2 linked regions of the Homo sapiens genome follow. The protein of the gene in region 2 interacts with the protein of the main gene of each other region in a biochemical or structural test. Each region holds a gene or a part of one and is shown on either strand. Other genes may lie near its edges.

Region 1 (7,031 bases), on a different chromosome or scaffold from region 2:
GAAGAGGCCGGGCATGGTGGCTCACACCTGTAATGTCAGCATTTTGGGAGGCCGAGGCGGGCGGATCACCTGAGGTCAGGAGTTTGAGACCAGGCTGGCCAACGTGGTAAAACCCCATCTCTATTAAAAAGTGCAAAAATTAGCCAGGTGTGGTAGAGGGCTGGTAATCCCAGCTAACTCAGCAGGCTGAGGCAGGAGAATCGCTTGAACCCAGGAGGTGGAGGTTGCAGTGAACTGAGATTGTGCCATTGCACTCCAGCCTGGGTGACAAGGGCGAAACTCTGTCTCAAAAAAAAAAAGCTGCGTGCAGTGGCTCATGCTTGTAATCCCAGCATGCCAAGACTGCGCCACTGCACTCTAGCCTGGTGACAGAGCAAGACTCTGTCTAAAAACAAAAACAAAAACAAAAAAAGGCTGGGTGCAGTGGCTCACGCCTGTAATCCCAGCACTTTAGGAGGCCAAGGTGGGTGGATTACCTGAGGTCAGGAGGTCAAAACCAGCCTGACCAACATAGTGAAACTCCATCTGTACTAAAAACACAAAAAATTAGCCAGGTGTGGTGGCGCATACCTATAATCCCAGTTACTCGGGAGGCTGAGGCAGGAGAATTGCTTGGATCTGGAGGCAGAGGTTGCAGTGAGCTGAGATTGTGCCATTGCACTCCTGGGCAACAAGAGTGAAAATCCATCTCAAAAAAAAAAAAAAAAAAAAAAAAAAGAAAAAAGAAAAGGCATGAAGAAAGCAAATGTAAGGGTACTGATGATCTGCTACTAATAAAACAAACAAATGGAAATTCTGGAGTTGAAATTATAATACAATAAATTTGCTGGAGGAGCTCAACAGCAAGTTCAAAATGGCAGAAGAATCAGTGAACTTGAAGATACAGCAATAGAAATAGCTGATCTGAAGAACAAAGAGAAATAACATTGAAGAATAATGAACAAAGCTTCAGAGATTATGGAAAAACTTCAAGCATACTAACATATGTGTAAGGAGAGCCTCAGAAGAAGAGAGAAGAGAGAGAGAGTAGAAAAAAATATTTGAAGAAAATGTCCAAAAACCTCCCATATTTGATGAAAAACATTAATCTACACATTCCAAAATCTCAAGGAACCCAAACTAGGAAAAATGTGAAGAGAGCTACACCTAGACACATCACAAACTGTTGAAAGGCAAAGACAGAAAATCCTGAAAGCGGTGAGAGAGAGAGAAAAATGACTCATCATGTACAGTGAAATAATTCAATTAATGACAACTTCTTATTTGAAAACAATTAAGGCCAGAAGGCACTGGAATGACATATTCAAAGTGGTGAAAAAGAATAAAAATGTCAACTAAGAATTCTATATCCAGCCAAATGATCCTGCAAACATTACACTAAGTGTCCAGGCGCAGTGGCTCATGCCTGTAATCCCAGCACTTTGGGAGGCCAAGGCGGCAGATCACCTGAGGTTGAGAGTTTGAGACTAGCCTTGCCAACATGGAGAAACCCTGTCTCTACTAAAAATACAAAATTAGCTGGCTGTGGGGCGCATGCCTGTAATCCCAGCTACTCGGGAGGCTGAGGCAGGAGAATGGCGTGAACCCAGGAGGCGGAGCATGCAGTGAGCCGAGATCGCGCCACTGCACTCCAGCCTGGGCGACAGAGCGAGACTCTGTCTCAAAACAAAATAAAACAGAAAAAAGAGAATCGCTTGAACTCTACAGGCAGAGGGTGCAGTGAGCCTAGATCATGCCATTGCACTCCAGCCTGGGCAACAAGAGCAAAATGTCGTCTCAAAAAAAAACCAAAAAAAAAAAAAAAAAAAATTACACTAAGCGAAAGAAGCCAGTCACAAAAATGCCACATATTTATACAATTCTATTTACATGAAATGTCCAGAATAGGCATCAATCCATAAAGAGAGGAGATAAGTCGTTGCCAGGGATGATTGCTCCTAGGTATAGGGTTTCTTTATTGGGGTGATGAAAATGTTCTAAAATTAGACAGTGGTGATGGTTGCAGAACTCTGTGAATATACTAAAAACCACAGAATTGTACATTTTAAACAGGTGAATTTTATGGAATGTGAGATTTACGTCAATAAAGCTGTTATTTAAAAATGAAATAGCCAGGCATGGTGGCTCACGCCTATAATCCCAGCACTTTGGGAGGCTGAGGCGGGCGGATCACGAGGTCAGGAAATCGAGACCATCCTGGCTAACACGGTGAAACCCCATGGCACGGCACCACCATGCCCGGCTAATTTTTGTATTTTAGTAGAGATGGGGGTTTCACCATATTGGCCATGCTGGTCTTGAACTCCTGCCCTCAAATGATCCACCCGCCTCGGCCTCCCAGTGCTGGGATTACAGGCGTGAGCCACCGCCCCCAGCCCAGTTGCACTACATTTAAAAGGACTGAACTCATCTCAAGTATATTCTTTGAACGCAATGGAATTTAATCAGAAATCAACAATAGGAAGAAATCTGGGAAATCCTCAAATATTTAGAAATTGAATAACATGTATCAAAGAAGAAATTTTACAAGGGAAATTAGAAATTATTTTGAACTGATTTAAGTGAAAATAAAACATTCAAAAATTTATGAGTTGCAACTAAAGCAGTGCTCTGGAGAAAAAAAACTCAGTTTATCCTACTTTACTTTTACAATACAGAACGCTTCTGTGACCATATGTGTGGGTTTTCTCCTCCCAGAAACCAAGCACTCAATTCTGCAGTGGACACCAGTTGGTGTCCCCTAATTCAAATCAATTCTGACACTATCTACCTGGAGACAGCTTCAGATCCTACAGGTTGAGGGCTTATTCCTACAAGACTGAGCCCTACTTCTGATGCCAATTGCAGGTTCCACATTCTTTCACCTGTTTTTCTGACCAACCGGCTATAAATCGAGGTTTCCATGACACCCCTGGATTCAATTAATTTGCTAGAGCAGCTCACAGAACTCAGGGAAAAACCAGGGGAGAAGTAACACGCAAGACCCAGCAAGCGTGTGAATGTGTAAGATCCCAAGTCAAAGGTCAAACCGCCTACTTGTCTCTCTCAAGTCGCCATCTTGGTCCTCTTCCAAGTATACTTTACTTCTTTTCATTCCTGCCCTAAAACTTTTTAATAAACTTTCACTCTTGCTCTAAGAGTTGCCTTGGTCTCTCACTTTGCCTTATGCCCCTTTGGTTGAATTCTTTCTTCTGAGGAGGCAGAAATTGAGATTCATGGCCACTAACATTCTTGCCTTGGCCTCTCAAAGTTTTGGAATTACAGGCAGGAGCCACTGGGTCAGGCCAACCTAAAAGATATGTTAAAGGATACAAATAGATAAAGAGATACATACGGCCAGGTCTGGAAGGGTCTAATGTGTAGGAGCGTCTATCCCCATGGAATTGGGGTGTGCCACACTTCCAGCACATGAATGTGTTCTTGTTCACCTTCCTGGAAGCCCCTAAACTGAGGTCTTTGGGTTGTTATGAAGGCTTCATTACATAGGCATGGTTGATTAAATCACTGGCTATCGGTGATCAATTCAACCTTCAGCTCCTTTCTACCCTCTCAAGATGGGGGGCTGTAACTTCCAAGCCTCTGAGCACATGGTTGGTTCCTATGGCAACCAGCCAACCAGAATGTGGTAATCTAGGGACTTCTCAAAAATCACCCTATTAACATGTACCAAGGTGTGGCTGAAAGGGGCTTGTTATATGGCCGGGTGCGGTGGCTCACGCCTGTAATCCCAGCACTTTGGGAGGCCGAGGAGGGCAGATTACGAGGTCAGGAAATCGAGATCAGCCTGGCTAACATGGTGAAACCCCGTCTCTACTAAAAATACAAAAAATTAGCCAGGTGTGGTGGTGGGCGCCTATAGTCCCAGCTACTTGGGAGGCTGGGGCAGGAGAATGGCATGAACCTGGGAGGCGGAGCTTGCAGTGAGCCGAGATCGCACCACTGCACTCCAGCCTGGGCAACAGAGCGAGACTCCATCTCATAAAAAAAAAAAAAAAAAAAAAAAAAAAAGAAAGGGGCTTGTTATAAATAACAAAAGTCTGTTTTTCACCTTTCTTGCTCTGGAGCAGTTCCAGAGGTGTTTCAGGAAGCAAGGACAAAAGGCCAAATATTTTAACAGAAGATACTCTTACTGCTTTAGTCACTGAGGAAAGTACAAGGGTTATAGAAGCTGTGAGCCAGGAACTATGGAGGGAAATATATATATATATATATATATATAAAACGTCACAAGTGCTTAAGAGAGAAATTTATAATTTTAAACATCTACATCAGAAAAGAAGGATCTCAAATCACTCAAATCAGCAACATAAGATCTTACCTTAGAAACTAGAAAAGATCAAGAAAATGACAAATTCTTAGCTAGACTAACCAAGAAAATAATCAGGGACCTCACATCTGTAATCCCAGTGCTTTGGGAAAGCAGAGGCGGACAGATCACTTTAGAGTTCGAGGAGTTCAAGACCAGCCTGGCCAACACAGTGAAACCCCGTCTCTACTAAAAATACAAAAAAGTTAGCCGGGCATGGTGACACATGCCTGTAATCCCAGCTACTCGGGAGGCTGGGGCAGGAGAATTGCTTGAACCTGGGAGGCGAAGGCTGCAGTGATCATTACTGCACTCCAGCCTGGCAAGACCCCGTCTCAAAAAAAAAAAAAAAAAAAAAAAAAAAAAAAAGTGACACAAGGAGAAACAAAATATTCTGTGTACACTTAAAACAAGTAAAGAAAATGAATAATCAAATACCTTTCCACAAAGAAAAGCCGAAGCCAGCTGGGTGCCATGGCGCATGCTTGCCTATAATCCTAACCCTTTGGGAGGCTGAGGCAGGAGGATCACTAGAGGCCAGGAGTTTCAGACCAGCCTGGGCAACAGAGCAAGACCCTCTATTTAAAAAAACACAAAAATTAGCTGGGCATGGTGGTATGCCCTTGCAGTCCTAGCTTTGAGTTTGAAGGAGTCTGAGGCTGCAGTGAGCTATGATTGTGCCACTGCACTCTAGCCTGGGCAACAGAGACCCTGTCTCTAAATAAATAAATAGAGAATTTAAAAAAAAAAAAAGGAAAGGAAGAAAGAAAAGCTTAGGCCCAGGTAGCTTCACTGGTGATAACTTTTTTTTTTTTTTTTTTTTGAGACAAAGTCTCAACTGTGTTGCCTAGACTGGAGTGCAGTGGCACAATCTCGGCTCACTGCAACCTTAGCCTCCTGGGTTCAAGCGATTCTCGTGCCTCAGCCACCTGAGTAGCTGGGATTACAGATGTGAGCCACCACACCTGGCTAATGTTTGTATTTTTACAAAAACACAAATTTTACAAAAATTTACAGGGTTTCTCCACGTTGCCCAGGCAGGTCAGAAAATAACTTTTATCGGCTGGGCGTGATGGCTCACCCCTGTAATCCCAGCACTTTGGGAGGCTGAGGCGGATCACCTGAGGTCAGGAGTTTGAGACCAGCCTGACCAACATGGTGAAACTCCGTCTCTACGAAAAATACAAAAATTAGCTGGGTGTGCTGGCAGGCGCCTGTAATCCCAGCTACCTGAGAGGCTGAGGCACGAGAATCGCTTGAACCCGGGAGGCAAAGGTTGCAGTGAGCCGAGATCACACCACTGCACTCCAGTCTGGGCGGAAGAGTGAGTCTCTGTCTGAAAAAAAAGAAGATAACTTTTATCTAAAGAATCCAAGTTTTTTTAAATGATCAGGGCCCAGAGAGATATTAAAATGAGATAGCAATCACTTCCTATTCTCCCTTTTTGAGCTAAGATTCATCTATCAAAACTGCTTGCTATTGCCACAAGTGGGTAAGGATTAACCTAATAATGCCCTACCTGACGCTATATCCTACATCCTACAGCTTAATGTACAGCCAATCACTAACCAATGTTATTTCTGTAAATCAATGAGAATTCTTGATAAACAACTTTGTATGAGTCCCACTCCCTGTCCACATTTTTTTGCCTTTAAAAATCAAGTAAACTCTTCAAATCATATTTTGTGTGTTAGCCTCTTCCTTGCAGGTCAACACTTCTATAAAATACTGTAAAAAGAAATATTACCAACTGAGTGTGGTGGCTCACACCTGTAATCCCAACACTTCGGGAGGCCAAGGCTGGTGGATCACCTGAGGTCAGGAGTTCAAGACCAGTCTGGCCAACATGGTGAAACTCTGTCTCTACTAAAAATACAAAAAAATTAGCTGGGTGTGGTAGCACCCTCCTGTAATCCCAGCTACTCAGGAGGCTGAGGCGGGAGAATCACTTAAATCTGGGACAGGGAGGCTGCAGTGAGCTGAGATCGTGCCACCACACTCTAGCCTGGGCGATAGAGTGGGATTCTGTCTCAAAAAAAAAAAAAAAAAAAAAAAAATTACCAATCCATCCTTCACAAACTCCTTCAGAAACAAGATGAGGAAGGGGCTGGGCATGGTAGCTCACGCGTGTAATGCCAGCACTTTGGGAGGCTGAAGGGGGCAGATCACTTGAGGTCAGGAGTTTGAGACCAGCCTGGCCAACGTGGTGAAACCCCATCTCTACTAAAAATACAAAAATTAGCCAGATGTGGTGGTGAACACCTGTAATCCCAGCTACTCGGGACGCTGAGGCAGGAGAATCGCTTGACCTCCTCCAGGAGAACCAGGGAGACGAAGGTTGCAGTGAGCTGAGATCATGCCACTGCACTCCAGCCTGGGTGACAGGGTGAGACTGCATCTCAAAAAAAAAAATAATAATAATAATAAGGAAGATCTACAAGAGAAAATTTCTCAAATCTTGGGTTAAGATAAAGAGTTCTTAGATATGACACTAAAGCACAATACATAGGATAAAAAATGATAAATTTAATCTCATCAAAACTTAAAACTTTTGTGCTTCAAAAGGCACTGTTTAGAAAATGAAAAAACAAGTCACAGTCAGGGGGAAATACCTGGAAATCATATCTATAATAAAAGACTTGTACCCAGAATACACAGATAACTCTTACAACTCAGTAGAAGACAAACAGCCCAATTACAAAATAGGCAAATGATGTGAATAGAT
Region 2 (7,031 bases):
GCCGGGTGCGGTGGCTCACGCCTGTAATCCCAGCACTTTGGGAGGCCGAGGCGGGTGGATTGCCTGAGCTCAGGAGTTTGAGACCAGCCTGGGAAAAACAGTAAAACCCTGTCTCTACTAAAATACAAAAAATTAGCCAAGTGTGGTGGTGGGCACCTGTAGTCCCAGCTACTTGGGAGGCTGAGGCAGGAGAATTGCTTGAACCCAGGAGGCAGAGGTTGCAGTGAGCCAAGATCGTGCCACTGCACTCCAGCCTCGGTGACAGGGTGAGACTCCGTCTCAAAAAAAAACACAGAACACCAGTGTGTGCTATGTGCTAGGCAAATTCCTTAAGAAAATAAGGGGACCCTTGAATGTGCACCATTCTCTGATGTTACAAATTGAGATTAACAATCTGTCAACTGCAAGAGCTCTTAGCAGGGAATTCATGAGCAACTCTCTACTGAGGTAGTGAGCAATCTTTGCTTCCACTCTCACTCCCCTCATTTCCCTTTGTAACTCTCACTTGGCCTCCAGAAGCAATGCTTAGATATTGCCTCCTCTTGGAATCTTCCTGACTCAACCCTCCTATGTACTTCCAAAGCATTCTGCTTTTAACCCCTGAATAGCAATTATTACATTGTATGGTCACTGCTCTTGCCCTAGCACCTAGCCCAATACTTATGATATATTAAGTACTCTCATATGGAAGAGCAGTTATAATAACCAGTAAGGACTGATTTCTTCCTAAGGAATAAGAAAATATGTCCAGTAAAGGAATCTTAGTGATGAAGAAGGGCTGTTAATAATGCCAATCAGTCTTTTTTATGTTTCCCCCGAGACAGGGTCTCACTCTCATTGCCTAGGCTGGAGTGCAGTGCTGCGATCTCAGCTCAATGCAGCTTCAACTTCCCAAGCTCAGGTGATCCTCCCACCTTAAGCCTCCCCAGTAGCTGGGTCTACAGGTGCATACCAACATGCCCTGCTAATTTTTTTGTATTTTTAGTAGAGACGAGGTTTTGCCATGTCGCACAGGCTGGTCTCCAACTCCTGGGCTCAAGCGATCCTCCCGCCTCAGCCTTCCATAGAGCTGGGATTATAGGCGTGAGCCACCGCACCCAGCCTCAAAGTCTTATTATGTGTATTCACCTACATTCCACATGTTTAGATTCCCATTATATACCTTGACCAAGTTAGTCATGGAAGCACGAAGATATTTTGGTATTATTGCTAATAGCAAAGGATCACGGGACAGGATTTCATGCCTGAAGAGGGCTCCCCAAGTCATCTGAGTTGAAGAGCGTAGAAACTAAAGAGAAAAAAAAAAGAAAACGTCAAAGGATTTGGATTCTATATAACCCAGATTATTACTTAGCAGTTATCAACTACATTTTTTCATAGAAATAAATCTGTACAATACTTTGAAGCTGTCTCTACTGCAATTTATCAGTAATGACCACCCACTATGGACCACATGTTAGTAAGACAGGCTGTGGATCAAGGAAATTACCTGGAATGTGAGCTGAATTTTACTACTTTCTCTTCTTTGCAAAAAAGGATACTGGAATCTCAGAGTGATATTAGAAGGACAATTTTGAACAGAGTGAAATTAATTTTATAATACAATTAATCAGACTTTTGTTTCAAAAATCTTTATAACTTTAGTACTAAACCACCTGGGACACACCTCACATGTGACTGAGTACAATCAGAATATTACCTAAAGGGAAAAGCTGCTGACCTAGACAAGTGCACTGTTTGGCTCAGGAAGAAGAGCCAATAATTCTCTTAATGAAATGACACTACGGTCATTCCCCAAGGCCTGAAGAGTCACATTTTATACATGATCTACAATAATATTTCAGGACACAGTGCTTGACATTGGTTCACCTAACTAAACTTTTGAGAAGTTACCTGTATAAAGTTTACCTGACTTGGATGGGTTGTGAAAGCAAGAAAAGATTCCAGGTATTTTCCAAAGTTTGATGGTGTTTCTACATCAGAATCTGCACCCTGTAGGAGAAGACCACTATATTAACGGTGTTGATCGAGAAAAGCAGGAGAGGAAAAAGCAGGGAAGTAATAAAAACAGATAAATTAAACCCTCAAAAAATGTTGTTTCAAAAGGACTTTGTATTTCCTTTTGGCTAAAGAAAGGCATCACTTCAAGGGCTAAAATATAGGTTACTTTGCCTACTCAATCATCATCATTACTTTGCCTACTCAATCATCATCATTAAAACCCATTCTGTGGTCAAACAGTAAAATAAAAAACACTCATTTCAGAAATTACAGAAAGAAAAAAAATCTGTATTACTTCCTCAGACCTTACCTATTCACATCTCTGTGTCCCAACCTATTACCTAATCCCTTCAATAGTTTCTTTTCTTTTTTTTTTCTTTTAGATGGAGTCTCACTCTGTTGCTCAGGCTGGAGAGCAGTGGCACGATCTCGGCTCACTGCAACCTCTACCTCCAGGGTTCAAGCAATTCTCCTGCCTCAGCCTCTCGAGTAGCTGGGATAACAGGCATGCACCACCACGCCTGGCTAATTTTTGTATTTTTAGTAGAGACAGGGTTTCACCATGTTGGCCAGGCTAGTCTCAAACTCTTGACCTCAGGTGATCTGCCCACCTCACCCTCCCAAAATGCTGGGATTACAGGCATGAGCCATTGCACCTGGCCCCCTCAATGGTTGCTTATCTCTGAAACTATCCTCTCTAACCATTTAAACCACCACAAAAAGATATAACATCAATTGCAAATGTCTGTTCCAATGTCCTATCTTCCAACTTATAAGACTGAGTATTAAATATTTCTCTAATGGCAGGTTTTCCAGGTCAATCAGACTCAAGTTTTCTTTTGTGCTCCAATAATACATCCCTTAGATTGGGAAAAGAGTTCTTTATTCAAGTCCATGTTTCGTGGGCTAACAGAATGTAAAAGCATAAAGCACTCAGCAGATTGAGGTTCTGTAAGTACCAAAATTCACAAGAAACCAACGTTGACTTTATGGAATAATAGACGTGGATATCTGACGTTGGTATAACTATTTTATTGTTAAAAGAAATTTAGATCACTCAAACACTATTCTATTAAGATAATTTAATCTATAGAATCATGCAATAACTTGTATGGCACTGCCCCATCAGGCTAAAATCAATGACATTTGCAACCCCTCATTGAAACATAAGTTTCTAAATGCTCTTCCCAAATGGGCTTGAAGCTCTCCAGAAAGCAAACACTAGCTCACCAGCAATGCACACAGCTGATTGCCCAGCGCACACAACACCTGACAGAGCCTCTTCAGAAAGACGTAGTGTTTTTCTACCAAACCTCCTCCATCAGCAGTCCTGTAAGATGAGAATTCCTTATATCACCAACAAAATTAAAAAGGCTGTAATAAAAACATCACTTTGTGTCTCATTTCTCCAAGTCATTTAGTTAGGTCTGTAATTCAGCAGAATTCCAATAGCTTTGCTAAATTAAAAATTTTTTAAAATCTTTTTAACTTATTTGGTGGCAAAACCTGACCTAAAATGATATAGGACTATTCACACAAACAGCAATTAATAACTATGAGTGTGAAAAGCAACTATATTAGCTGTCTTCTGGAGGAGGACAGTATCACATAAAAGGCAAGGACCTTGGGGTAAACGAGGCCTAGGCTTTAGGAACATTGAAGGACAGGATGGTATTATGGTGTCCAATGCAATCTCTGGAGTTTGACTACCTGGGTTGGAATCACCGCTTTATGAACCATGGTTGTGGTATGGCACCCACAGCACAAACAGAAACGGGACACCACTTAGTATGAGTGTCATGATGTCTATGGAACTAAGAATTGGACCTAAAAATAGTAACTACCCAAAAAACGTTATTCATTTAATTAACAGGATCCCTTAAAACAGTGCTGCAGTCTCTACAGGGAAGGAAGCCATGAAAAATGTGTATTAGAATGGGTAGTAAGAGATTTTAAGTAAAACACATGTGCCTCATACCTTTTCATTTCTCCTTGGGACCAAAAGTAAAGAGTATCAAAAAGATGGTGTTGCAACAGATTCAACTACTTATAATATATAGTTCTGCCTGACTTCCTGGTAAGAAACATGTTATCAAGAAATGCTTTAATATTTTTTCTTTTTTTTTGAGACACGATCTCGCTGTCACACCTAGGCTGGAGTACAGTGGCTCAAATATGGCTCACTGAAGCCTCAAACTAATGGGCTTCAAGGGATCCTCTCACTGCAGCCTCCCAAGTAGCTGGGACTATAAAGCGCATGCCACCATACGCAGCTAATTTATTTTCATTTTGATTTTTTGTAGGGATGAGGTCTTGCCATGTTGCCCAGACTGGTCTTGAACTTCTGGGTCCAAGCAATCTTCACGGCTTGGCCTCCCAAAATATGGGGATTACAGGCATGAGCCATTGGGCCCGGCCTTGCTTTAGTATTTTCTAGAGCAACTGGAAGAAAGTACATGGAAGCCCTTACAGTCATGCATCACTTAACGACTGGGGATGTGTACTGAGAAATGCATCGTTAAGTGATTTTATCACCATTTGAACATGATAGAGTGTACTTACACAAACTTACACAACAGGAATAGCCTATTACACATCTAGGCTATATAGCATAGCCTATTGCTCCTAGGCTACAAACCTCTATAGCATGTTACCGTAGCCAATACTGCAGGCAACTGTAACACAATGGTAAGTATTTGTGTATCTAAATACAGAAAAGGTACAGTAAAAATATGGTATAAATGATAAAAGATGGTATACCTGTAGAAGGCACTTACCATGAATGACTGCAGGACAGAAAACTGTACTGGGTGGGTCCAGAGTGAGTGGTGAGTGAATGTGGAAGCCTAGGACATTACTGGACCCTACTGTAGACTTTATAAATTCTGTACCCTTAGGCTAAACTAAACTTATTTATTTATTTAGAGATGGAGTCTCACTCTGTTGCCTAAGCTGGAGTGCAGGGGCACAATCCTGGCTCACTGCAACTTTCGCCTCCCAGGTTCAAGCGATCTCCTGCCTCAGCCTCCCAAGTAGCTAAGAATACACACATGCACCACCACGCCCGGCTAATTTTTGTACTTTTAGTAGAGATGGGGTTTCACCATGTTGGCCAGGCTGGTCTTGAACTCCTGACCTCAGGTGGTCCATCTGCCTTGGCCTCCTAAAGTGCTGTGATCACAAGCATGACCCAGCGTACCTGGCCCGCTAAATTTATTTAAAAAATTTTCCAGCCGGGCACGGTGGCTCATGCCTATAATCCCAGTACTTTGGGAGGCTGAGGTGGGTGGATCACCTGAGATCAGGAATTCAAGACCAGCCTGACCAACAGGGAGAAACCCTGTTTCTACTAAAAATACAAAATTAGCTGGCCATGGTGGTGCATGCCTGTAATCCCAGCTTCCTGGGAGGGTGAGGCAGGAGAATCGCTTGAACCCGGGAGGCAGAGGTTGCAGTGAGCTGAGATCGCATCATTGCACCCCAGCCTGGGCAATAAGAGCGAAACTCCATCTCAAAAAAAAAAAAACTTCCTTTCTTCAATAATGAATTAACTTTAGCTTACTGTAACTTTTTAACTTTATAAACTTTTAAAAACTATTTTTTTGAGACAAGGTCTCAGTCTGTTGCCCAGGCTGGAGTGTAGTGGCATGATCATGGTTCACGATTGCCTGGACTTCCCAGCTCTAGTGACCCTCCCACCTCAGCCTTCTGAGTAGCTGGGACTACAAGTACACATACCACCACACCCGACTAATTTCTGTATTTTTTTGTAGAGATGGACTCTTGCCATGTTGCTCAGGTTGGTCTCAAACTCCTGACTCAATCAATCCTCCCGCCTTGGCCTCCCCAGGTGCTGAGGTTACAAATGTTAGCTAGCACATTCAGCCATGACTGCCTCATTTTCTCTCTTTTTTTTTTTTTTTTGAGACAGAGTCTCACTTTGTTGCCCAGTCTGGAGTAGAGTGGTGTGATCTCAGCTCACAGCAACCTCTGCCTCCCAGGTTCAAGATACTCTCCTGCCTCAGCCTCCTGAGTAGCTGGGATTACAGGCGTGCGCCACCAGGTCTGGCTAATTTTTGTATTTTAGTAGAGATGGGGTTTCACCGTGTTGGCCAGGCTGGTCTCAAACTCCTGGCCTCAAGTGATCCACTTGCCTTGGACTCCCAAAGTGCTGGAATTACAGGTGTGAGCCACCACATCTGGCCAATGCCTCATTTTCTTATCCAAAAACACTGTCGATTGACAGCTAGCATTTAAGTAAGAACTTCAGGTGGGCACAGGGGCTCACTCCTGTAATCCCAGCACTTTGGGAGGCTGAGGCAGGTAGACCACCTGAGGTCAAGAGTTTGAGACCAGAGCGGTCAGCACGGCAAAACCCTGTCTCTACTAAAAATAGAAAAATTAGCCAGGCATGGTGGTGCGCCTGTAATCCCAGCTACTCGGGAGGCTGAGGCAGGAGAATCGCTTGATCCCAGGAGACGGAGGTTGTGGTGAGCCAAGATCGCGCCACTGCACTCCAGCCTGGGTGACAGAGCGAGATCCATCTCAAAATAAAAAAAAAAAAAAGAACTTCAGATAAATCCAAATAAGATAGAAAAATGACAAAGAAATTAGAAAACACACTGAAAAGTAAAGATACTCACTGTGCGGCGGAGAGTATATAATGCATGGCAACATCTCCAAATAAGACCATCAAGGGCTTCCGGTCTTCCAACTTGCCCTAGACCCAATTTTAGGGAAACATAGTCATATAAACTATACTTCAAAGTACCGACATCTTCTGTAAGTATATAATCAAATATATTGACTTCATAATTTCTTATATACCCCAGGGTTTAGTGAAACACTAGAAAGAAGCCCAACTCTTTAAAACCAAATCTGGATAAACTACATATTTTTTCTCAAAACTATCAGTTTAGTGAAAAAGCATAAACTTACATTTTTAAATGTGTTCGGCAGGCCGAGTGCGGTGGCTCATGCCTGTAATCCCAGCACTTTGGGAGGACGAGGCAGGCGGAACAACTGAGATC

Evidence for each region.
Region 1: the proteins of XPO5 (region 2) and ZNF346 form a complex in vitro, tested with the Homo sapiens proteins (one study listed by BioGRID).

What each region holds. Positions count from the first base shown.
Region 1 is NC_000005.10:177,025,685-177,032,715, reverse strand, and holds part of ZNF346 (zinc finger protein 346), read right to left. Parts: intron 1-7,031.
Region 2 is NC_000006.12:43,559,016-43,566,046, forward strand, and holds part of XPO5 (exportin-5), read right to left. Parts: intron 6,722-7,031; coding exon 6,645-6,721; intron 3,393-6,644; exon of another isoform or gene 3,332-3,392; coding exon 3,232-3,331; exon of another isoform or gene 2,385-3,231; intron 1,993-2,384; coding exon 1,909-1,992; intron 1,289-1,908; coding exon 1,163-1,288; intron 1-1,162. UniProt on the Homo sapiens protein: Mediates the nuclear export of proteins bearing a double-stranded RNA binding domain (dsRBD) and double-stranded RNAs (cargos). XPO5 in the nucleus binds cooperatively to the RNA and to the GTPase Ran in its active GTP-bound form.